7 linked regions of the Homo sapiens genome follow. The protein of the gene in region 7 interacts with the protein of the main gene of each other region in a biochemical or structural test. Each region holds a gene or a part of one and is shown on either strand. Other genes may lie near its edges.

The links.
Region 1: the proteins of RHOA (region 7) and BMAL1 form a complex in vitro, tested with the Homo sapiens proteins (one study listed by BioGRID).
Region 2: the proteins of RHOA (region 7) and FMN2 form a complex in vitro, tested with the Homo sapiens proteins (one study listed by BioGRID).
Region 3: the proteins of RHOA (region 7) and LRP2 form a complex in vitro, tested with the Homo sapiens proteins (one study listed by BioGRID).
Region 4: the proteins of RHOA (region 7) and MPRIP form a complex in vitro, tested with the Homo sapiens proteins (one study listed by BioGRID).
Region 5: the proteins of RHOA (region 7) and AGAP1 form a complex in vitro, tested with the Homo sapiens proteins (one study listed by BioGRID).
Region 6: the proteins of RHOA (region 7) and CLOCK form a complex in vitro, tested with the Homo sapiens proteins (one study listed by BioGRID).

The regions. Positions count from the first base shown.
Region 1 is NC_000011.10:13,371,790-13,375,289, reverse strand, and holds part of BMAL1 (basic helix-loop-helix ARNT-like protein 1), read right to left. Parts: intron 3,128-3,500; coding exon 2,881-3,127; intron 1,196-2,880; coding exon 1,089-1,195; intron 1-1,088. UniProt on the Homo sapiens protein: Transcriptional activator which forms a core component of the circadian clock.
Region 2 is NC_000001.11:240,472,883-240,475,687, forward strand, and holds the end of FMN2 (formin-2), read left to right. Parts: intron 1-1,245; coding exon 1,246-1,272; 3' UTR 1,273-2,305; downstream 2,306-2,805. UniProt on the Homo sapiens protein: Actin-binding protein that is involved in actin cytoskeleton assembly and reorganization. Acts as an actin nucleation factor and promotes assembly of actin filaments together with SPIRE1 and SPIRE2.
Region 3 is NC_000002.12:169,205,535-169,209,034, reverse strand, and holds part of LRP2 (low-density lipoprotein receptor-related protein 2 precursor), read left to right. Parts: intron 1-1,784; coding exon 1,785-2,705; intron 2,706-2,846; coding exon 2,847-3,012; intron 3,013-3,397; coding exon 3,398-3,500. UniProt on the Homo sapiens protein: Multiligand endocytic receptor. Acts together with CUBN to mediate endocytosis of high-density lipoproteins. Mediates receptor-mediated uptake of polybasic drugs such as aprotinin, aminoglycosides and polymyxin B.
Region 4 is NC_000017.11:17,157,457-17,160,956, forward strand, and holds part of MPRIP (myosin phosphatase Rho-interacting protein), read left to right. Parts: intron 1-975; coding exon 976-1,546; intron 1,547-3,500. UniProt on the Homo sapiens protein: Targets myosin phosphatase to the actin cytoskeleton. Required for the regulation of the actin cytoskeleton by RhoA and ROCK1.
Region 5 is NC_000002.12:236,120,043-236,123,542, reverse strand, and holds part of AGAP1 (arf-GAP with GTPase, ANK repeat and PH domain-containing protein 1), read right to left. Parts: intron 3,352-3,500; coding exon 3,096-3,351; intron 1-3,095. UniProt on the Homo sapiens protein: GTPase-activating protein for ARF1 and, to a lesser extent, ARF5. Directly and specifically regulates the adapter protein 3 (AP-3)-dependent trafficking of proteins in the endosomal-lysosomal system.
Region 6 is NC_000004.12:55,429,657-55,431,909, forward strand, and holds part of CLOCK (circadian locomoter output cycles protein kaput), read right to left. Parts: 3' UTR 1-2,253. UniProt on the Homo sapiens protein: Transcriptional activator which forms a core component of the circadian clock.
Region 7 is NC_000003.12:49,401,977-49,405,476, reverse strand, and holds part of RHOA (transforming protein RhoA isoform 1 precursor), read left to right. Parts: intron 1-3,500. UniProt on the Homo sapiens protein: Small GTPase which cycles between an active GTP-bound and an inactive GDP-bound state.

The sequences.
Region 1 (3,500 bases), on a different chromosome or scaffold from region 7:
TGTCATGCTTTATCTCAATCACAAAGCCCAAGGGCAATATAGAACTTATCTCATTTCTAAGAACATCCAAATCAACAGAGGCTACTCACCTATTCAACCTCATTCTTTCATGTAACATGTAATGAGCCCTTCTCATGTGCCAGGCACTGGAGATACAAGAGGAGACAGGCTATGACTCCTGCCCTCAAGAAGAGTAGTGAGGGAAGGCTATACAGGGAGAAGAGATCAGAGCCTTGAGGGATGAACACGAGTTTGCCAAGAGAAGGAGGGAGGGAAGAACCCAGCAGTGCCTGAGGAGCAGCAGGGTCTGGTTGGGGAGAGGCCAGTGAGGTCAGTGTGCCTGGAGCACAGGCCTCTGCAGGCAGGGATGGGGACTGAAACTGAGGAGGTGGGCTGGGGCCAGAAGGTGGAAGGTCTCACATTTGATTGCCTGTCAAAAGCATTTGGGCTTGAGTCTAAAGCAGGAGGTTTTTAAGCAGGCTGATGTTACCAGGCTCAATCTATCTGGGGATAAATAGGATAACTATGGAAGATGAACTGGGGGTGAGAGGGATCAGAGAAACCCTGAGAAGTCTATCACAGGTCTCTAAGTAGGCACGAGGGCCTGAACCAGGGTGATGGCAGAGGTGGTAAAAAGTAGACTTTTGGAAATGCATGTCTGAGGTGAATGAACAGGATCTGGTGGAGACACAGTGAAAGAAGGGGTCAATGTTGGTCTCTCTCAGGAGCCTGCACATGAAGCCACAGCATTAGTCAAGACAGAAAACACAGGAGGTAGTGCAGGCTTGAATGGAAAAGAGAATCAGATCAGTCTGGGCCATACTAAATCTTTACAGGGTCTGGGAAAACCCTCTGAACAAGAGATGTCTTTCAGAAACTGCCATGCAGTCAGCACAGGGCAACTACAAGGGGGATAAACAGTGCCTGCAGGTATCAGCTTCCTCTTCACACAGATGTTCTGACCTGAAGAGTCCTAGGCTGGCTGACTCTACATCCTCAGTGGACAGATTTCCCTGGAAGGTCATGTTGACTAGTCTAGAAGCAAGGGGACACTTTCAACTTAAGATCTTTCATACATCCTAGCTTACCTTGCCTATGACATTCTGCAAGATGTCCTATGTCATCTTGGTGAAAATATTCATAACACGATGTGCCTAGAAGTTCTTGTGGTAAATATGCCAAAATAGCTGTTGCCCTAAAAGGGAATAAAGGAATATTTAAAGAAGAAAAAGCCATTCAGATGATTAATTGCAACTTTGCAATGGATAAACCCTGCTACAGCCTATGAGAGCAAGGTCAAAGCTGCAGGCAAAAGAGCTGGATGGATTTTCAGAGGGCTCACTGTGTGGATCTTTCTCTCTTTTTTTCAGGCATCTGAATTTAATCAAGGCTATAAAAATAGAGGGAAACAGAGCAAAGCCTTTGTAAAGGGACTATTATCACAAGAAATCAAATCTGAGGGGGCTTTAAAAATTGCAACCAGTCGGGCATGGTGGTTCATGCCTGTCATCCCAGCACTTTGGGAGGCCGAGTTGGGCAGATTGTCTGAGCTCAGGAATTCAAGATTAGCTTGGGCAACATGGTGAAACCCTGTCTTTACCAAAAACACAGAACAATGAGCTGGGTATGGTGGCACATGCCTATGGTCACAGCTACCTGGGAGGCTGAGGTGGGAGGACTGCTTGAGCCCGGGAGGTCAAGGCTACAGTAAGCCAAGATCTCGCCACTGCACTAGATCTAGCCTGGGTGACAGACTGAGATCTGTCTTTAAAAAAGGAACCACATTAATTAGATTAAAATGTGGTATAAATCTAAACCTCAGTGCAAGGCTTCTAGTTTTTGCTGCCTCCTTTTTATCAGGACAACCAAATGCCAGAAGCTGCAGCAGCTGAGGCCACAAGACAGCTGAGGCTGTCTCTTTTTCCAGCATGTTGTGGCTGTCTCTAGTAGCCAGAAAAATTATTAGCCTGTGCATATTCTGAGGGAAAGCAGTAGGCAGCAGTAAATTTGGGACACCTGGGTCCTTGGTCCAGGTCTATTACCAATTAATTGTGAATCCTACAGGAGACCAGTCCCCAGGCTGGCCTCTGTTCTTCATCCATAAAATAAGGAGGTTGGATTAGATCAACGCTGTCCAACAAGACTTTCTGTGATGATGGAAATGTTCTATGTCTGTGCCGTTAGCCACATGGGAGGCTACCATGGCCAACGAGTATTTTATTGGACAGCTCAGGACTAAATAATTGCTTCCAAGTCCTAGATTCAAAAGAATTTCAATCACAATAATGGTTCTGGAACATTCCATAGATTCAGACAGCATGCTATCCCTACTGTTTTTCTTTTAGCCATGGACATCAAGGCACCCCACTTAATTGTCTCTATATGCCAAAGAATGACAGAAAAATCTCTGTATTTATGATGATATCCTATTGAATCTCATTTTTTAACAGAGACTCTCATCATTTGTCTCTTTTTTTTTGAAACAGGGTCTCACTCTGTTGCCCAGGCGGAAGTGCAGTGGTGCAATCACAGCTCACTGCAGCCTTGACCTCCCGAGGCTCAGCTGATCCTCCTGCTTCAGCCTCCAGAGTAGATGGGACTACAGGTATGTGTCACCATGCCTGGCTAATTTTTGTATTTTTAGTTGAGACAGGGTTTTGCCACGTTGCCCAGGCTAGTCTCAAACTCCTGGGCTCAAGTGATCCACCCACCTTGGCCTCAAAAAGTGCTGGGATTTGAGGTGTGAGCCACTGCACCCAGCTTTTTCTTTCTTTCTTCATTCTTAGAAAAGCCAGCTGATGGCCCAGTCTTCTCTGCTTTTTAGATCAGGGTTGAAAATCCTCTACCATCATTGCTCAAGGGTAGTATGTAGACTCTTACCTCTGGTCTACAAAAACAAACTTTCCATCTATCGCGTGCCGAGAAACATATTCCATAGATTTCACCCTGATTTCCCCGTTCACTGGTTGTGGAACTACATGAGAATGCAGTCGTCCAATTGCGACGAGGCAGCTGAGGTTACACCCCTCATTGTCTGGTTCGTTGTCTTCATCCAGCCCCATCTTTGTGGGTGGCCAGCTTTTCAAATAGCCTGTGCTGTGGATTGTGCAGAAGCTTTTTCGATCTGCTAGAAAGCAAAGTTCGTGGTTAGTGTCAGCACTAGGTTTGGGCCATGGAGGTGTACACGGCCGATGGTGGGATGGGATGTAGGTAGGGAGTCAAAAAATAAAAAAAAATCAAGGCTTCACTCTCCAGAAGTAAGCATCTAATGAAAGGGGCAGACGGAAAGAGAAACAAACTGTCATCCAGTGTCAGAATGCTTAAGTAGGGCCAGTTATACCATGGACATTCATTACATACACCAAGGAAGGAATATCTAACTCTTCCTAGGGAGAGGAAGGCTCCCCCAAAAAACCAGTAGAGGAGGTGGATCAAGAAGGATGAGCAGTGGCTGAGGGACTAGAATGTATAAAGGCTGATGACGTACACAGGCACAGAGG
Region 2 (2,805 bases), on a different chromosome or scaffold from region 7:
TGCAGTGAGCCAAGATTGCAACACTGCACTCCAGCCTGGCAACAGAGTGAGACTTTGTCTCAAAAAAAAAAAAAAAAAAATTAAGATAAATCTACTGAATCTACTGAGGGTGTGCATTTATGTGGATATGTGCATGTTGGCAGGGGCAGGGTGGGGAGACCATCTTTCACTTTCTTTGTTACACACAGATCACGGCAGAGGCTGTATTTGAGCCACGAGTGATCATTCTAATTGGATTAGATCCACTGGGATGTAAAGTTGGTGGGAAGCGCCAAGAGCAGTGTGACGCTTTGCCCAGGGTGCCCAGACCCCGTTTATATCCACAGATGGCTCGGCAGAGTTGGCTGCCGGAGAGTGGTCAGTCCAGAGACGGAGTTTAACAAGCTCATTTAAGTTTCCTGCTTGCCCACTCCCCGCTTTAAAACAAAATGCCAGGTTATCCACCCTGGGAGGGAAGGGCTTGGTTAAAATGACAAGGCTTTTCCTTGTGATACTGAGGATGTTTTGTTGACTGTTTTGAGGGATTATCACTTGGTACCACAGTGTAAGTAAATGTTTTAAATGAAAAGTTGAGTTAGGCCTTAGGATAGGACCATTCTAAATTGAATTAGTCTAATGTAGTCTAAAGGGAAAAGACATTAAAATAACCCAAATTGGGATATGATTAAATAGCCCTGTTTTTTTTTAAAAAGTTAGGAATTATATCTTCATTTAGAAGCAGTGGTGCCTTCAGTTTCTCTGTATCAAAATGATCTTATCTAATGATAACTACTACATGATAGTTCAGCTTATCTTCTGCTCCTGATGATTCAGTCTTATAACTGTATTGAATGTGGAGGAATAGTTACTTATTAGTGAACCTCAATCTTGCTATTATGAGTACAGAAGATAATTAGAGTACATTTACCATGAAGTGAAGCAGCCACTTCAGTTTTCATATTTATGTATTTGCATGTAGGATTGAGGATGAGAATGGAGAGTTTGACACCCTCTCATATTGGTTAGAAGTTAAATTTTTAAAACTTTTTTTTTTCTCAAAAGTATTTGGCGATTTGTCTTGATAAAAGTGCTCAAAGATAACACAGATCCCACTTATACTTTTTTCCTTTATGGACTGGTAGACCTTTAACCTTGTCCCACAGAATTTGATCCAAATGAAAAGGTCTTTTTTAGGCTACTCTAAATTCTTTCCATTTTTAAAAGTTCTTTCTAACTAAAACTTTTATCTGGTGTATTTGTTTTCAGAAAGCAAAGATAAGCATGAAAACTTGAACAATGAAAAGCAGAATGAAAATGAGTCATTGCAACGACTTTCACAAAATTCAGCTGACCTGAGAGTGGGAGGGAAACTACCGTCATTCTGCTCATGTTTCTTCTTGACCTCTTGCATAATCTTTTTGTTTTCTAGACAGTTCACTAATTGTTGAATTTTACTGTATATTCATATAAAAATGCAAACGTACTAGACCAGTGGAGAATTTGACACCTTTTCTTTTTGTAAAAGTTTATGGTATTATACCGATAGACCAAAACAGCATGTGTAAGAGGCAGTATCTGCACTAATTCTCAACATGCTAAACATTAACTACAATTCACTGTTGTGAGAATATTCCTCGTCACAGCAAAAACACTTTCCTTTCTACTGACAACCAGTCCTCCACATCACAGCATTTAGACATATGGGTAAAATGTTATTTCTAGTGAATTGTTTGTATCAGTTTCATGTCTAAGTATAAATTTTCTATTTTAAAATTTAAGAACCGTTTATAATCAGTGCTTTCCCAACTCTTGGGTTGCTCTCCATAACTATGTATTTGTGAAAGAAAATGGTCATTTTTTTTACTGAAGTCATATAATGACTTGGGTCAGCTCGTAATGCATTGTGATGGTTTTGTATGAGCTGGGTGTTTTTTTCCATTACTTTTAATGATCTTCGTTGCAAGTTATAGTTGTGGATAAAGGGGAGAATTTATTGCTCTTGCAAACCAATTATGGAAAGCAACTTAAGAAAACCAATGTTCTAAATCATAATTGTTTGTATTTATGTAAAGTATGGTCTCTTACTTTTTAGTTTGTAGTTTAAGTGCAAAGAAACAGTAGTGGTTTTTTTTCTATTGTTTTGTAGTCTTCCTGTCCCCTTCAGTCCCTCCAGTGTGTATATTACCATTCTCCAATGAAATAATAGGGCATTTAACAAAGATCGCTATGTGCAATACTGTATTTAGTGTTTCTATTTCAATTTTTCTAGGATGTTAATTTATATGAAAATAAAATGAATAATAAAAGAATAAAGATACTTGCAAAAGACAGCTGTCATATTTAACATGGGGTGGGGAATAAGAGAAGGAGGGAAAATAAGTTAGGCATGCTGCATATTCACCTGCACACACACACAAAAATGTGTGTACAGTTTCAGGGACTTAAGAACTTAAAGCCCATCAATGATACCTAAGTAAGAAATCCTGGTAAAATATTTATTCCTTTGTGGCTTGAACTAGGATCTCTTTCCTGATCTCCCAAAGATCTTCTGGTCATTTTCAATCAGATATCTCACCATGCCTTAAAATTCATTATGTGTAAATTCAAACTCAGCTTGTCATCTTTTCCCTCCATACCTGCTCATTCTTGTGTATTATCTATCTCAGTGAACAAAGCCACTATTCATTCAGAAACCCAAGTTCATCTTTTGACATATTACTTATCACAAATGCATACATTTGTCTCTGTCTTTTCTATTAAAGTCTTAGTTCAGAACCCTCATTAATTCCTTTATTAACCTACTCATTGTTCTCATCTTCCGAGATT
Region 3 (3,500 bases), on a different chromosome or scaffold from region 7:
TAATTGCTTCCTTTTATTCATATATAAAAATCCCTTAGATCATGAGATATTTTATTAGTAATTTTTTTAAATGCCTGGTCCAGTATTATATTAACTTAGTTGTATTTATTCATGCACATAAGCTTGAATAACCCCTCATTTTTATCACTCATCTGAGTAAAAATACCACTCATAATTAGTGGTATTATATGTTTTGGAATATAATCCAATTCTACATAAAATCAGTATCATTGAATCAAGCTTGGTGAGTAGGCATCACTTAGAAATATTAGCATGTAGGCAGGGCGCAGTGGCTCATGCCTGTAATCCCAGCACTTTAGGAGGCTGAGGCAGGCGGATCACCTGAGGTCAAGAGTTTGAGACCAGCCTGACCAACATGGTGAAACCCCATCTCTACTAAAAACACAAAAATTAACCAGGCATGGTGGCGTACGCCTGTAATCCCAGCTACTCAGGAGCCTGAGGCAGGAGAATCTCTTGAAGCCGGGAGGTGGAGGTTGCAGTGGGCCGAGATTAAGCCACTGCCATCAAGCCTGGGTGACAGACTGAGACTCTGTCTCGAATTAAAAAAAAATTTAAAAAAAGGAAATATAAGCATGTATTATGAAAATCTAAGTACTATAATAAGAGTTTATTGCAAAAAGTAAATATGGAAGTATGGTTAAATAAAGCTTTAATTGGGTTCCTAACTCCCGTTCCTGAATAGAAATTACTATTTCTGAGGGTATAGATAAAGCAGTAGTCAGCAAACTATGGCCCGTGCGTCAAATGCAGCCTGTTGCCTGTTTTTGTAAATAAAGTTTTATTGTAACACAGCTATGCCCATTTATTTGTGTATTGTCTATGGCTGCTTTCATGTTACAGTGGCAGTGTTGAGTACTTGTGAAACCATATGCTCTGCAAAGCCTAAAATATTTATTATGTGGCCCTTTACAGAAAAAGTTTGCCAACCCTGGATTAAAGGATTGGAAATGAGCAAATGCATACATAGCAAGTAGAGTTAGGTAATGAAAAAATGTATCAGTAACATATTTCACATTGGCCTGATTTCTCTAGAGGTGGTTTGAATCAGATATAGGAACAAAATATGTGTGTCTTGGTAGTAGCATTGATAGTTCAACAACAGACTTTCAACTACATGAAATCAATAATTTGTGGTCATTCTCTACTTATTATACTATCTTCATAAAGTTATCTTTTTATTCTAGCATGTACATAAGGCCCAAAGGGAAATGGACTTTTGGTCACTTTTAGAAGGTCCATGGGATGAAAACACCTACATTAGTTAGAAAGACTAAGGAAAAACTTCATGTTAACCTTAAGTTCAAAGACCATTTGATAACATTAATAACAACCTGAGATGCTGCTGGTGCTCCCTCTTTGCTACTTTTATCACATTGGGATGGAAGTTGTGCTATGAAAATGTATATTTAGAGTGTTTCAAGTAGGTATTAAGCATTTAGAGCTTCAGATAGAAAAGGAGGGACATTCTGGAAAATATACCTTTCAGTAGAAAGTGGGTTATGATGTTGCTATGAATTCTAATCTACTTTAGAAGCTGAAGATAGGCACTTTCTCTCTAAATTTGAAGACACAATCTCTATAATTCCTAGGAGTAAGAACTTATTTTTCTAAGCCTAGACTGGGACACTATCATCTTGGAAAAGACAACATATAGTGACCCAGACTTCAACCTTATATATTTTGTTCTGAATTTGTAAAGTTCTCCCTTTTTTTCTTCTTGGTTCTCCATTGATCAGCATGCACTTTCATTTTTCCCATAGGAAATCTTTATTTCACCAATGCCTTTGTTTCTGAAACACTGATAGAAGTTCTGCGGATCAATACTACTTACCGCCGTGTTCTTCTTAAAGTCACAGTGGACATGCCTAGGCATATTGTTGTAGATCCCAAGAACAGATACCTCTTCTGGGCTGACTATGGGCAGAGACCAAAGATTGAGCGTTCTTTCCTTGACTGTACCAATCGAACAGTGCTTGTGTCAGAGGGCATTGTCACACCACGGGGCTTGGCAGTGGACCGAAGTGATGGCTACGTTTATTGGGTTGATGATTCTTTAGATATAATTGCAAGGATTCGTATCAATGGAGAGAACTCTGAAGTGATTCGTTATGGCAGTCGTTACCCAACTCCTTATGGCATCACTGTTTTTGAAAATTCTATCATATGGGTAGATAGGAATTTGAAAAAGATCTTCCAAGCCAGCAAGGAACCAGAGAACACAGAGCCACCCACAGTGATAAGAGACAATATCAACTGGCTAAGAGATGTGACCATCTTTGACAAGCAAGTCCAGCCCCGGTCACCAGCAGAGGTCAACAACAACCCTTGCTTGGAAAACAATGGTGGGTGCTCTCATCTCTGCTTTGCTCTGCCTGGATTGCACACCCCAAAATGTGACTGTGCCTTTGGGACCCTGCAAAGTGATGGCAAGAATTGTGCCATTTCAACAGAAAATTTCCTCATCTTTGCCTTGTCTAATTCCTTGAGAAGCTTACACTTGGACCCTGAAAACCATAGCCCACCTTTCCAAACAATAAATGTGGAAAGAACTGTCATGTCTCTAGACTATGACAGTGTAAGTGATAGAATCTACTTCACACAAAATTTAGCCTCTGGAGTTGGACAGATTTCCTATGCCACCCTGTCTTCAGGGATCCATACTCCAACTGTCATTGCTTCAGGTAAGTGCACTCCAGGTGCTGCTTGTCCTGCAAGTAGACACAATGGGGTCAACACACATGGATGACTGAGTGTTTCTAATGCATATGAGACTCTAATGTCTTTGTGTGTGCTTGTGTGTGTGTCTGCCTGTATGTGTCCAGGTATAGGGACTGCTGATGGCATTGCCTTTGACTGGATTACTAGAAGAATTTATTACAGTGACTACCTCAACCAGATGATTAATTCCATGGCTGAAGATGGGTCTAACCGCACTGTGATAGCCCGCGTTCCAAAACCAAGAGCAATTGTGTTAGATCCCTGCCAAGGGTATGCCATCATCTTCCTTGTTATATTTCTGTCTGCTTATTTCTGGAAAAAATGGGGCCTGAAATTATGTTCATAGATAGCCAATGTGTTATGGGCTTATAAAACTATGGCTACAGATTCAAAAATGAAAGCATATTGAGTGATTTTACGTGGGAAGGAGGGTGCAGCGCATAGCTCCCTTTGATGGCAGAAAGGTTGGCAACATACTAGGAAGTCAACACCCTGACTTACTAGATCTCCTTTGGACAAGTTGTGTAAGTAGAAATGAAGTTTCTTTTGCCATGTTACTGGCAATTTGCAATTAAAGAATATTGTCCTTTTTTTTTTTTTTAAAGGACTATGAGGTTCCCTGTGAATTAATTATTGACTCCTTTTGTATGACTAGGTACCTGTACTGGGCTGACTGGGATACACATGCCAAAATCGAGAGAGCCACATTGGGAGGAAACTTCCGCGTACCCATTGTGAACAGCAGTCTGGTCATGCCC
Region 4 (3,500 bases), on a different chromosome or scaffold from region 7:
GCCTCCTGTTTCCCTCACCCTTAGGAGGTCCCAGTCTTTCATACTGATCCATCTGTCATGCCAGCAGCTGGATTGGGCTTTTAAAACATAGATTCAGGCTGGGCACAGTAGCTCACGCCTGTAATCCCAGCACTTTGGGAGGCAGGCGGATCACCTGAGGTCAGGAGTTTGAGACCAGCCTGGCCAACATGGAGAAACCCCGTTTCTACTAAAAATACAAAATTAGCCAGGCATGGTAGCGCATGCCGGTAATCCCAGCTACTTGGGAGGCTGAGGCAGGAGAATCGCTTGAACCCAGCAGGCAGAGGTTGTGGTGAGCCGAGATCGCGCCATTGCACTCCAGCCTGGGTAACAAGAGTGAAACTCCATCTCAAAAAAAAAAAAAACAAAACATAGATCTGATCACGTTACCTGCTTATTAAAAGGTAAGCCCTTCTAGAAAGTGCTAGTTTTCCCTCATTCTGTCACCACTGTCCAGTCCAGGGGTGCACAGGGCCCAGGCCTCACCTGGCAGGTACGGTGGCTGTGCCCAGGTGCAGCCTAATGTAGTTCTTGGCCCTGAGCAAGGCAGGGCTGGCCCGTCCTGCCTCTGAGGCTGTGGGAGTCCTGGGACTCCCCTGGCTCCATACCCTGGCAACGGGACCACCACAGTGAGCCCCTCACAGCCTCTTCAGTCAAGGGACCCCCCCAGTGTCATTATGTGGGAAACCTCAGCTTTCTGAGGCTCTTTTCCCTTCCTTTCCCCTTCCCCTCCCCGTCCCCCTCCCCCTCCCCCACTCAGAACCAGTTTGGGAAGGGATGTGGGGTAAAGGCAGAGTATTCCTGTCCTCCCTGCACTTAGGAAGCTGGGATTAGGATAGAAAAAGGATGTGGTGCTCACAGGGGCTGGGTTGTGGCTCAGCATTGCCAGCTTCTGCCTGGCAGGCCACACCAGAGCCGCCCCTGACAGGCTATGTCCATCCTCCTGCCCCACAGCTCGTTGCCAGAGGAAAAAAACAAGAGCAGCTGCTCTTTTGAGACCTGCCCGAGGCCTACTGAGAAGCAAGAGGCAGAGCTGGGGGAGCCGGACCCTGAGCAGAAGAGGAGCCGCGCACGGGAGCGGAGGCGAGAGGGCCGCTCCAAGACCTTTGACTGGGCTGAGTTCCGTCCCATCCAGCAGGCCCTGGCTCAGGAGCGGGTGGGCGGCGTGGGGCCTGCTGACACCCACGAGCCCCTGCGCCCTGAGGCGGAGCCTGGGGAGCTGGAGCGGGAGCGTGCACGGAGGCGGGAGGAGCGCCGCAAGCGCTTCGGGATGCTCGACGCCACAGACGGGCCAGGCACTGAGGATGCAGCCCTGCGCATGGAGGTGGACCGGAGCCCAGGGCTGCCTATGAGCGACCTCAAAACGCATAACGTCCACGTGGAGATTGAGCAGCGGTGGCATCAGGTGGAGACCACACCTCTCCGGGAAGAGAAGCAGGTGCCCATCGCCCCCGTCCACCTGTCTTCTGAAGATGGGGGTGACCGGCTCTCCACACACGAGCTGACCTCTCTGCTCGAGAAGGAGGTAATAGCCTGGGACCAGATCCCCACCCTGCTCCCAGCAGCCTTTCCAGAGCATCAGCTGTGCCCAGCTGTGGCCTGAGGGGTTCATCTAGACAGTCCTACCCGCGAGGGACTTGCAGACCCCTAGGGGAGACAGACGCATAGATGAGTCCTCATAGTTGAGGCAGACCTGAGAGCTGTGGGAGCGTGCCAGTGCATGCAGGGCAGGGAAAGGGGCCTTCCAGGCACAGAGGAATTCTTCCGATGGTGGGGGCCCCTGCCATTGAGAGGCAAGCGGCGTTGCAGGGCCTAGATGGTTTCCTCGTTCTGACTCCCGATGGCAGGAGGGGCGCGAGCAGGGCAAGGCTTTTGCATTACGCAGCCCTGGCTTGGACAGGTCAAAGCTGTAGGCAGAGACCAGCCCCAGGTGCTCTTACAGTGGCTTGGGGACGGCCGATCAGATCTGAAGCCAGGGGCATCCAGCAGGAGATGACAGCTGGGTCCTAGGTCATGAGGATATGAAGCAGAAGACAGTGGTGAGGCAGGGTAGGCTGTGGATGAAGGCTGCCCTGTGACTGTCACTCCTCCACGAGGCCTTCAGTGCACCTAGGTACATAGATGAACAAGCTGGCCCCCGAACTATAAAATAAGATGTTCTTTCATGGAAATGTATGCAGAAATCCAGTCTGCAGAACTTCAGTGGTAGATTGACATGTCTGGGCAGGGAGTCTCGTAGCTGGGGAGGTGTAGCGTTACAGTTTTTGTAGAACTCCCTGTTTCACTCTCCATTTAGGGACAGTTTTCAACACTGTGTTTCAAATGTGTTCTCTTACGTAAGTAGCTTGTTAAAGATTTGCCACTTGGGTATGCCTCAAGCTTCTCATCTTTTTTGTATTTTATTAACTGTATGAGGCTGAGTTACCACCAGCACTAATACTTGTACTTTTTCATTTTCCTCATCCATTAACAAGTAACAAAGGCAAGATGAAATAAAATAACAGTTGAAACTCACATTACTTCAGGCTACCAAAATGGGCCAGCCAGCAGGCGACACACTGGCTCAACAATCTGGGGGGTCAGTCTTCACTGTTTAAAAGTCAGGGGTCGGCTGGGCATGGTGGCTCACGCCTGTAATCCCGGTACTTTGGGAGGCCGAGGCGGGCGGATCACAAGGTCAAGAGATCAAGACCATCCGGCCAACATGGTGAAACCCCGTCTCTACTAAAAATACAAAAATTAGCTGGGCATGGTGGTGCATTCCTGTAGTCCCAGCTACTTGGAAGGCTGAGGCAGGAGAATCACTTGAACCCAGGAGGCAGAGGTTGCAGTGACCTGAGATCGCACCATCGTACTCCAGCCTGGCGACAGAGCGAGAGTCCATCTCAAAAAAAATAAATAAAAGTCAGGGGTCTCCCCGCCTCTCACAGCACAGTCTGTCAGCACCCTGGGCGGCACTGGCCTGACTGTCCACCACACACACAGCTCCATTCAGCACGAGCTCTGGGAGCAGGTTGGGTAGCCCTGCACATGGCCAGGCATCAGGAGGCACCTGGGAGGTGTGTAGGGAAGAGGTGGATGGATGAATGAGTAGCTGAAGCTGTTGAAAGCAAGAAGAGTGTAAAATAGCTTACTCATGGGTATCCACACCTTGTTTGAGGGAACTGCGGGAACTCTTTTTGCAAACAGAACTTTGTGGAATCCATCATGTAAAGCTGGTCAAATGGAGTGGTTTCAGTTGAGACCATAGTGGGCCCTGGAGTGAGGCCTGCTTGGGGCCACCACTCACAGTGGTCCCTGTAGAGCCTAGCCTGGCCTGTGTGACCAGCTGAGGACACCCAAAGGACCCCATGGGGTGCTTCCTCCAGATGCAGATGCAAAACCCTTGTTCCCCAGTGGACACATTCCCCTTCTCAGAAATGAACACCCCGTATGGGCCTTGGCACCTATATAGGGCGTGCATGTTGGAACCTTGAGCA
Region 5 (3,500 bases), on a different chromosome or scaffold from region 7:
AAAAAATCACCCATAATCTTACTACTTAGAGATAACCTTTGTGAATTAGTGTATTTCCTTTCAATGAGTTTTCTTTGAATCTACATGTATATGTACATAATTGAGATAAGACTGTACAAATAATTTGTATTTTTTTCATTTTTTATTGATTACTATACTGTGATCATTTTCTTACATCATTAAAAATTACTCAGAAGCACAACACAAGCTGGGTGCGGTGGTTCACTTCAGCCCAGGAGTTCAAGACTAGCCTGAGCAATACTGGGAGACCCTGTCTCTAGAAAAAAACACATTTTAAAAAAATTAGCTGGGCACGTGGCATATGCCTGTGGTCCCAGCTATGCAGGAGGCTGAGGTGGGAGGATCGCTTGAGCCTAGGAGGCAGAGGCTGCCGTGGGCCGACATCACACCACTGCACTCCAGCCTGGGCAACAGAGTGAGACCCTGTCTCCCCACCCCTCAAAAAGCATGACATATGCAAGTCATACAGTATTCCACCACATGAACAGAATTCAGAACTCTCCCCTCAACTGTGCACACTTTGTAAAAATTGTCACTGGAGCCGGACACGGTGGCTCATGCCTGGAATCCCAGCACTTTGGGAGGCCGAGGAGGGCGGATCACAAGGTCAGGAGTTTGAGACCAGACTGACCAACATGGTGAAACCTCGTCTCTACTAAAAATACAGAAATTATCTGGGCATGGTGGTGTACGCTTGTAATCCCAGCTAGTGTCAGGAGGCTGAGGCAGGAGAATTGCTTGAACCCGGGAGGCAGAGGTTGCAGTGAGCCGAGATCGTGCCACTGCACTCCAGCCCGGGAGACAGAGTGAGACTCTGTCTCAAAAAAAAAAAAAAAAAAAATTGTCACTGGAAGAAACAGTGCCCGGATGTATGTCCTCACATAGAATCTTTCTTAGGATCTGTGATTGATTATTAGAGTGATGATCAGAAGGGGGAAAATATGAGGTTAAAGTACACAACGTTTTTAAGCTTTTTGCTCATGAAAAAGAGTGAATTCACTTCCACTTCTGCCAACTCACAATGTGTGGGAGTCTGAGGCCACTCAACAGCATGGAACCAGCGCCATCAAAGGAATTTTTGCTCAATTGGAGAAGCAAAGATGGCCTGTAATTTATAACTGTGTCCCCCGCTCCCACCAACAATTCACATGTTTAAGTCCTGACACCCAGTACTTTAGAATGTGACTGTATTTGGAGACAGAGCCTTTATGGTGGTGTATTAGCTTAAATGAGGTCACAATAGGGTTAGTATCTATATGAGAAGAGGAAAAGGCTGGGCTGGGAGGCTGATACCTGTAATCTCAACACCTTGGGAGGCCGAGGTGAGAGGACTGCTTAAAGGCAGGAGTTCAAAACCCATGGGCAATATGGTAAGAACGTAAGTCTACAAAATTTTTTAAAAACTGCCATTCATGGGGGTGGCATGCCTGTGGTCCCAATTACTTGGGAGGCTAGGGTGGGGGGATTGCTTGAGCCCAGGAGTTTGAGGTTACAGTGGGCTATGATTGTGCCACTGCACTCCAGCCTGGACGACAGAGCAAGACTTTGTCCCAAAAAGAAGGGGGTGGGGGGAAAGGAGAGAGCTACCAGGAGCGAGTGCAGAGGAAAGGCCCTGTGAGAACATAGGGAGAGGGCGGCCGTCTACCAGCCGTGAGAGAGGCCTCGCCAGGAACCATTCCTGCTGGCCCTTTGATCTTGTACTTCCAGCCTCCAGAACTGTGAAAAAATAAATGTCTGTTGTTGAAGCACCCCTGTCTGTGGTATTTTGTTATGGCAGCCCTAGCACACTACACACAACTCTTATTTAATGTGCATTACATCACATGTATGACTCATGAGCAAAAGGGAGTATCTGTGTGATTTTGGTGTAGTGTCTATATCTCACTCATTCACCAACTGCACCCATCAAAAAAGTCAGATCAAGGCTGGGCGTGGTGGGTCATGCCTGTACTCCCAGCACTTTGGGAGGCCGAGGCGGGTGGATCACGAGGTCAGGAGCTCGAGACCAGACTGACCAACATGGTGAAGCCCCGTCTCTACTAAAAATACAAAAATTAGCTGGGCGTGGTGGTGCGCACCTGTAATCCCAGCTTCCTGGGAGGCTGAGGCAGGAGAATTGCTTGAACCTGGGAGGCGGAGGTTGCAGTGAGCTGAGATCGCACCACTGCACTCCAGCCTGGGTGACAGAGCGAGACTCTGTCTCAAAAAAACAAAAAACAAAAAAGTCAGATCAAAAACATGCAGAAACCTGCTGCACTCTACCCATGCTGCTGTAGAACGTGCTGCTGTGCTGGACTGACCCATCCTGCCTTGCGGGTGGAGACAGAAGAGCCTCCAGCTGGGTGTCCCACCTCTGGGTGCTGTCTCCACTTCTGGGCACACACTTGCCTTCCCTATCTGGGGAGCCTCCCTGCCGGCAGCTTTCTGCCTGCCTCTGGTGGGAACCTGCCTCAGCAGAAGCCCCAGGGGTCCACAGGCAGCCCCTAAGTGGGCGTGGCTTCTCAGACGTAGCTCCTGGGTGGCACAGGCAGGGCCTCTCTGCACAACCACTTTATCCTTCTCTTTCACTCCTTCAAGCATTGTGACACATGCTTCAATAGGAATGTAAATAATACTTTTCCCCAGTAGAAATTAATCAGAATGGTTCGAAAGAAGTCCTTTGACAAACTCCTGCCACATCAGACCTCAAAGTTTAGGGTCCAGTATTTCTGTGTTAAGTGAATAAAAACACCAAAGGTTTGGAAATGGGGAAACCCTACAAGCCATCCCGTTAATACACCGCCTTCTCTCCAGAAGATGATGGAAATGAAAAAAGAGGGATAGCACCAACCCTGCTTGATAAGGGGCAATCACAAAGTTGCAATTTTCAGAAACTCTAGCAAGTACTGTACAAGGAGGACCGGCTGTCTCTCCGTAAGGCCCTCTGCTCTTCAATCAGAGTTTCCCATTAGGAACTGTTTCCACTTGCAGATCGAGAACAACAGCCTTCTGCCAGAAAGATGCCCACGGAAGCAGAACAAAGCAGAGAGTGCCTCCTGTGGCCCCGTCCTCTGCCAGGCGTGCCGACCACCTACCCAGATCAGGAGCTGCGCCAGGACCACATTCCCCTTGCGGCAGGCCAGATGCAGCGCCGTGCGGCCGTCTCCCTCCCCGCAGGTCTCGTTCACCTCGTCCCGGGAGCCGTGTGCCAGCAGCAGGATGGCCGTCCGCAGGTCCTCGTCGGCGGTGGCCCGCAGCAGGTGCTGGCCCAGGGACAGCTCCGTGCAGGGCAGCGGGGCCAGGAAGAGCTTCTGCTCGTACTTGGCACGGATCCACCGTTCCTTCTCTTCCCTGCAAAGAGCCACCAGACAGGTGCAGTCACGATCAGGCCCGAGAACACAGGCTGCCAGCCCCTGCCCAGTGTGGTCGGGAGAAGCCGAGAGGGAAGTGAAATAACAGAAAGCAAAGGTCTTCACTCGGCACAAAGCCCCCTGGGGGAA
Region 6 (2,253 bases), on a different chromosome or scaffold from region 7:
CAAATGGGCAAAATAGAGGCATCATGTGCCATTGGTTCTGTCATACTGGCCTTTGACTGTGTTGGGGAAGTAATCACACAAAAAGTGCCCATAAAACAAAGAAGGCAGCAAGTGAAACTAGAAAAAGGTTGGAACTGTATGAATCAGATTTGAAAGGAGTTATTTCTAAAATTCTTTCTTAGATGACTTGAGGAGGGAAGTGCAGGGGCATCTGGAGTTGGCCCCTCCACTGCCGTCCTGAAGTAAAGTAGATTCAGACTGTCCGTAAAGATTATCATGAGAGTTGGTGACTGCACCCCAAATCAGAGCCAGTTCCCTAAGAAGAATATGGTGCAAAACAAAACAAACCACACATTAAATACATGACACCGAAATCACTTTGATGAGAAAACAGAACACACAGGTATTTTAAAATATAAATAAATACATTTAGCCATTTTTATTCAAGAACCCCAGAGAACTGCTTTAAAAGCAATTGCTTCTTTGAACCCCTTTCTAAATTCTTTCATAAATACTTACTAGTTTGATTGTCACTTAATGCAGCACCTCAGTGTTTGCTGGTGGTGGTGATGGAATTTCACTTAGTTGTCTCTCCATAAACTATATCCTATTCCACTAAATAATGTTTCCCTGAGGAAACCCAGGCAGCTTACAAAATACTGTTATAAACACTCACAACAAAACCTGCAGAGTATTTTATTTAAGAAAAACAAGGAATGTAGTGTTATGACATAGGGGGAAAAAACTATGCAAAACAGTCACATGGAAAGAAAGTATTTTAATTTTTAAAATCCAAGTTTGCTTAATTTCTTGTGAACTGTTCAACACTGTTTTAAATATCCTGAATAACTGTGCCAACAAAATTCATCCCCAGTGTTTCCACAGGAGACATTAAAATTAAAGACCAAATTATACTATTTTTTTCCTTTAACCAAAGTATTCTTTTTCTCAGTCCTTTTTGTGCAAAAATATTACAAGAGCAATTCAAATGGAAATGCTGAAATGACATGCCAACATTTCAGGGCACATTTAAAACACTCAGAATAATTCTTGAAATTATTATATTCTAAAATGTTACTAGCAATCACTTTTAGATTAGTTCTGTACATCTACTCACACGGATGCAATTTTCCTAGACCTCTGAAAAATAAACAGGCTCATTGGTCTCTTTTGGTGTCCACACAATAGGCAAGATAGGTTTACAATAGTGTTTAAATCAAACTAGGCATCTACAATCTCTTGACTCCACCACATTCAAAACAAAAATCAAAGTTCATTTGGCTATCTTGAAATCACTCCCATAAACCAACTACGGTTCACTGGACCTAAACATTTCTCAGAAATGTGTCATTTTATATAATTTCACCTAAGTAAGTGATGATTTGGGGATCCTTTAGAAATGGTTAACGCCTAAGAATAAACTTTATCAAAATGAGTAATTGCAATAAAGTGCTTGTTACATTTCAAAATGATGCTTTTAGACTGTGGTATGTTGTTTTAAAAGTGTGTGCTATTCCTTCCGTAAAGGATCCCCAGGCATGAGAGTTGGGTCTTCTCACCTGTCTCATAAAGCAGCAGCACTATCTTTTGGTAGGCTGACAATAGGCACATTACCCATGCGGATGAGGCTATACTAGTGCTATGGCAAAAGGGGAAGTAAATTAGAAAAGTGGGAGGCATGTAGAGGGTTCCTATTATAGTTATATACAAATATATTAAATATACTATAAAAATAGTCGATTCTATTCCTTTGCAATTACTTCAGAAGCTCCTTTTAGAAGAAAGCTCACCCAATCCAAACTTAAAAGGTTCTCTTTCTCCAAACACTTAAAATGGCAAGTGCCTTTGTGCTGTTTCTTCTCTACCATTCAAAAATTCCAATCAGCTTGTCCTGGCTAGAAAGACTCACTCAGCAACATTAATATCCAGTGTTTACCCCCTTCCAACAGGGACTCCTGTGGGACTAAGGGCCACAGGTAATTGGAAAGGTTATAGACTTGAATGCGTTTTACACAAATATTCATCAACAAACTTTCAATTACCAAAGAAACAGAAAGAAAAAAGCAGAAATACTAAAGTAAAATGCTATTTGCATTCCACTTTTAAAAAGTTTGCCTCAATGTAGTGGAAACATCTGAAAACATGTTGAGTAATATCCAGTTTAAAAGAATTTTCACTTGTCTGCGTAGAGTACTATTTTAAGGATCCCTTTCTAAGGCTTCCTGAACAAGGGTTCTTCTCCCTTCAACAGTG
Region 7 (3,500 bases):
AGACATGTAGCCCTTCAACTAACTTATTTTATTTATTTATTTTTTGAGATGGAGTTTTGCTCTTGTTGCCCAGGCTGGAGTGCAATGGCGTGATCCCAGCTCACTGCAACCTCCACCTCCTGGATTCAAGTGATTCTCCTGCCTCAGCCTCCCCATTAGTTGGGGTTTACAGGCATGTCACCATGCCCAGCTAATTTTTTTTTTTTTTTTTTTTTTTTTGAGACACAGTCTCGCTCTGTCACCCAGGCTGGAGTGCAGTGGCGCGATCTCGGCTCACTGCAACCTCCGCCCTCCGAGTTCAAGCAGTTCTCCTTCCTCAGCCTCCTGAGTAGCTGAGACTACAGGTGCCCGCCACCACGCCCGGCTAGGTGTTTTTTTTTTTTGTATTTTTAGTAGAGACAGGGTTTTACCGTGTTAGCCAGGATGGTCCCGATCTCCTGACCTCAGGTGATCTGCCTGCCTCCGCCTCCCAAAGTGTTGGGATTATAGGTGTGAGCCACCGCGCCTGGCCTACTTTTTTTATTATTTTTTTTTTTGGAGACAAGAGTCTCGCTCTGTCGCCCAGGCTGGAGTGCAGTGGCGTGATCTCGGCTCACTGCAAACTCTGCCTCCCGGGTTCATGCGGTTCTCCTGCCTTAGCCTCCCAGGTAAACTGGGACTACAGGTGCATGCTGCCACGCCTGGCTAATTTTTTTTTTTTTTTGTATTTTAGTAGAGACGGGGTTTAACCATGTTGCCCAGGCTGGTCTCCATCTCCTGAGCTCAGGCAATCTGCCTGCCTTGGCCTCCCAAAGTGCTAGGATTACAGCCGTGAGCCACCGTGCCTGGCCTTCTGGCCTTTTTTTTTTTTTTTTTTTTTTTTTTTGAGACGGAGTCTTGCTCTGTTGTCTAAGCTGGAGTGTAGTGGCACAATCTCGGCTCACTGCAATCTCTGCCTACCAGGGTGCAAGCGATTCTCCTGCCTCAGCCTCCCAAGTAGCTGGGACTACAGGTGCGTGCCACCATGCCCGGCTAATTTTGTGTGTGTGTGTGTGTGTGTGTGTTTTACTAGAGACGGGGTTTTACTTTGTTGGCCAGGCTGGTCTTGAACTCCTGACCTTGTGATCCACCTGCCTTGGCTTCCCAAAGTACTGGGATTACGGGTGTGAGCCACTGCGCCTGGCTTTTTTTTGGAGAGATAAGGTCTTGTTTTGTCATCTAGGCTGGAGTGCAGTGGCACAGTCATAGCTCATGGTGGCCTCCAACTTTTGGTGTCAAGGTATCCTTACGCCTCGTCCTCCCTAGTAGCTGGGACTACAGGTGTATGTGCCACTGCGCCCAGCTAATATTTTTACATTTTGTAGAGATGGAGTCTTGCTGTCTTGCCCAGGTTGGGTCTCAGACTCCTGGGCTCAAACAGTCCTCCCACCTCAGACTCCCAAAGTGCTGCAAGTACGGGCATGAGCCACTGAGTCCAGCTATCTTCAACTTTCACTATTCAGGTTACAGTTTGTAGTACCTTTTTTCGGGGGTGGTGGGAGGGTAGTGGGAGTAGCACCCTAAGATTTCTTGGAATAAAACAGGGCTTACTACTTGGTTCCTGGTACTTAAGAACAGTGGTTCCTAGACTCCACTGTTCCCAAACTTGGAATCCAGTTCCCCAAATTGGAATCACCTGAGGTTTAATTACCTTCATGGAGGTTTAATTTGCATACAATAAAATGCACATACTTTAAATGATAGTTTGATAATTTTTTTGTTCTTATTTTTTTTAGACATAGGGCCTTGTTCTGTCACCCAGCTGAAGTGCAGTGTCGGAATCATGGCTTACTACATCCTCGACCTCCTAGGCCCAAGAATTCTCTGCTTTAGCCTCCCGAGTAGCTGGGACTGCAGGTGTGCACCACCACGCCTGGCTACATTTTTATTTTGTAATTTTTTTTTTTGTAGAGAGAGGGGTCTCACTATGTGCTCAGACTGGTCTTGAACTCCTGGCCTTAAGTGATTCTCTCGTCTCAACCTCACAAAGCCCTGGGATTATAGGCATGAGCCACCACAAACCGCCAGTTTGATAAATTTTGATGAATGTGTATACCCAAGTAATTGCCACTCAGTCGAGTTAAAGAGCATTTCCTCAAGGCTTTAAATTTTTATTTTTATTTTTGAGACGGAGTCTTATTCTGTCATCTAGGAGTGCAGTGCCGCAATCTTGGCTCACTGCAGCCTCTGCCTCCCGGGTTCAAGTGATTCCCCTGCCTCAGCCTCCTGAGTAGCTGGGACTACAGGTGCGTGCCACCACACCCAGCTAACTTTTTGTATTTTTAGTAGAGATGGGGTTTCACTCTGTTAGCCAGGATGGTCTCGATCTGATCTTGTGATCCGCCTGCCTCTGCTTCCCAAAGTGTTGGGATTACAGGCGTGAGCCACCGCGCTCGGCGGGTTTCTTTTTTTTTTTTTTTATGAGATGGAATCTCGCTCTGTTGCCCAGGCTGCAGTGCAGTGGCACGATCTCAACTCACTGCAACCTCCGCCTCTCGGGTTCAAGCGATTCTTCTGCTTCAGCCTCCCGAGTAGCTGGAACTACAGGCACCCGCCACCACGCCCGGCTAATTTTTTGTGTTTTTAGTGGATACGGGGTTTCGCCATGTTGGCCAGGCTGGTCTCAAAGGCCTGACCTTGTGATCCTCCTGCCTCGGTCTCCCAAAGTGCTGGAATTACAGGTGTGAGCCACTGCTCCTGGCCTAAAGTTTTTTAGACTAGTTTTTTTGTTCATTCGTTTTATTTGCTTGGCTTCCTAGAATATGACAAGTTTTGGTTTGTTTTTGAGACAGAGTCTTGATCTGTTTCCCAGGCTGGAGTGCAGTGGTGCTATCGTGGCTCACTGCAGCCTCTAACTCTTGTGCCCAAGTAATACTCCTGCCTCAGCCTCATGAGCATCTGGGACTACAGGCAAGCACCACCATACCTAGTTAATTAATTTAATTTTTATAGAGATGACGTTTTGCCATGTTGTCCAGGCTGGTCTCTAACTCCTGAGCTCTGGCCTCGCAAAGTGGTGGGATTATAGGTGTGAACCACTGCACCCGGCCTAGTTTTTTATTTTAAGAAATATATATACTTGGTAAAAGTAAACTCCTGCAATAAGGTTTACAATAAGCATATATAAATTCTTAGCCAGCTCACTGGGAGGTACCTAATGGTTCATTTTTCTTTGTCAGTTTTACTAGATACGCATTGTCTTAGAGGCAATGTAAGTTTGGAATTAGGCCAAACAAAGTCAAATCCTGATTCTGTGCATCCATTGAAGGTTAACCTTATAATATTTACATTTTGAGATAAATGATTTCATGCTCTTATTTAGGAAACTTGACGGTATGTTACCTCAGGGATTGTTCCTTGCCTGTCTTTCCCCAAAGAACTTGAGTTTGAAGTGATTTTCACTTGGCAGTAAATTGAAGGTTTTCTTCATTGCTTACCACCATGTGCCTTATTCCTGCTGCTCTTGATCTCCAAGTGCCCTT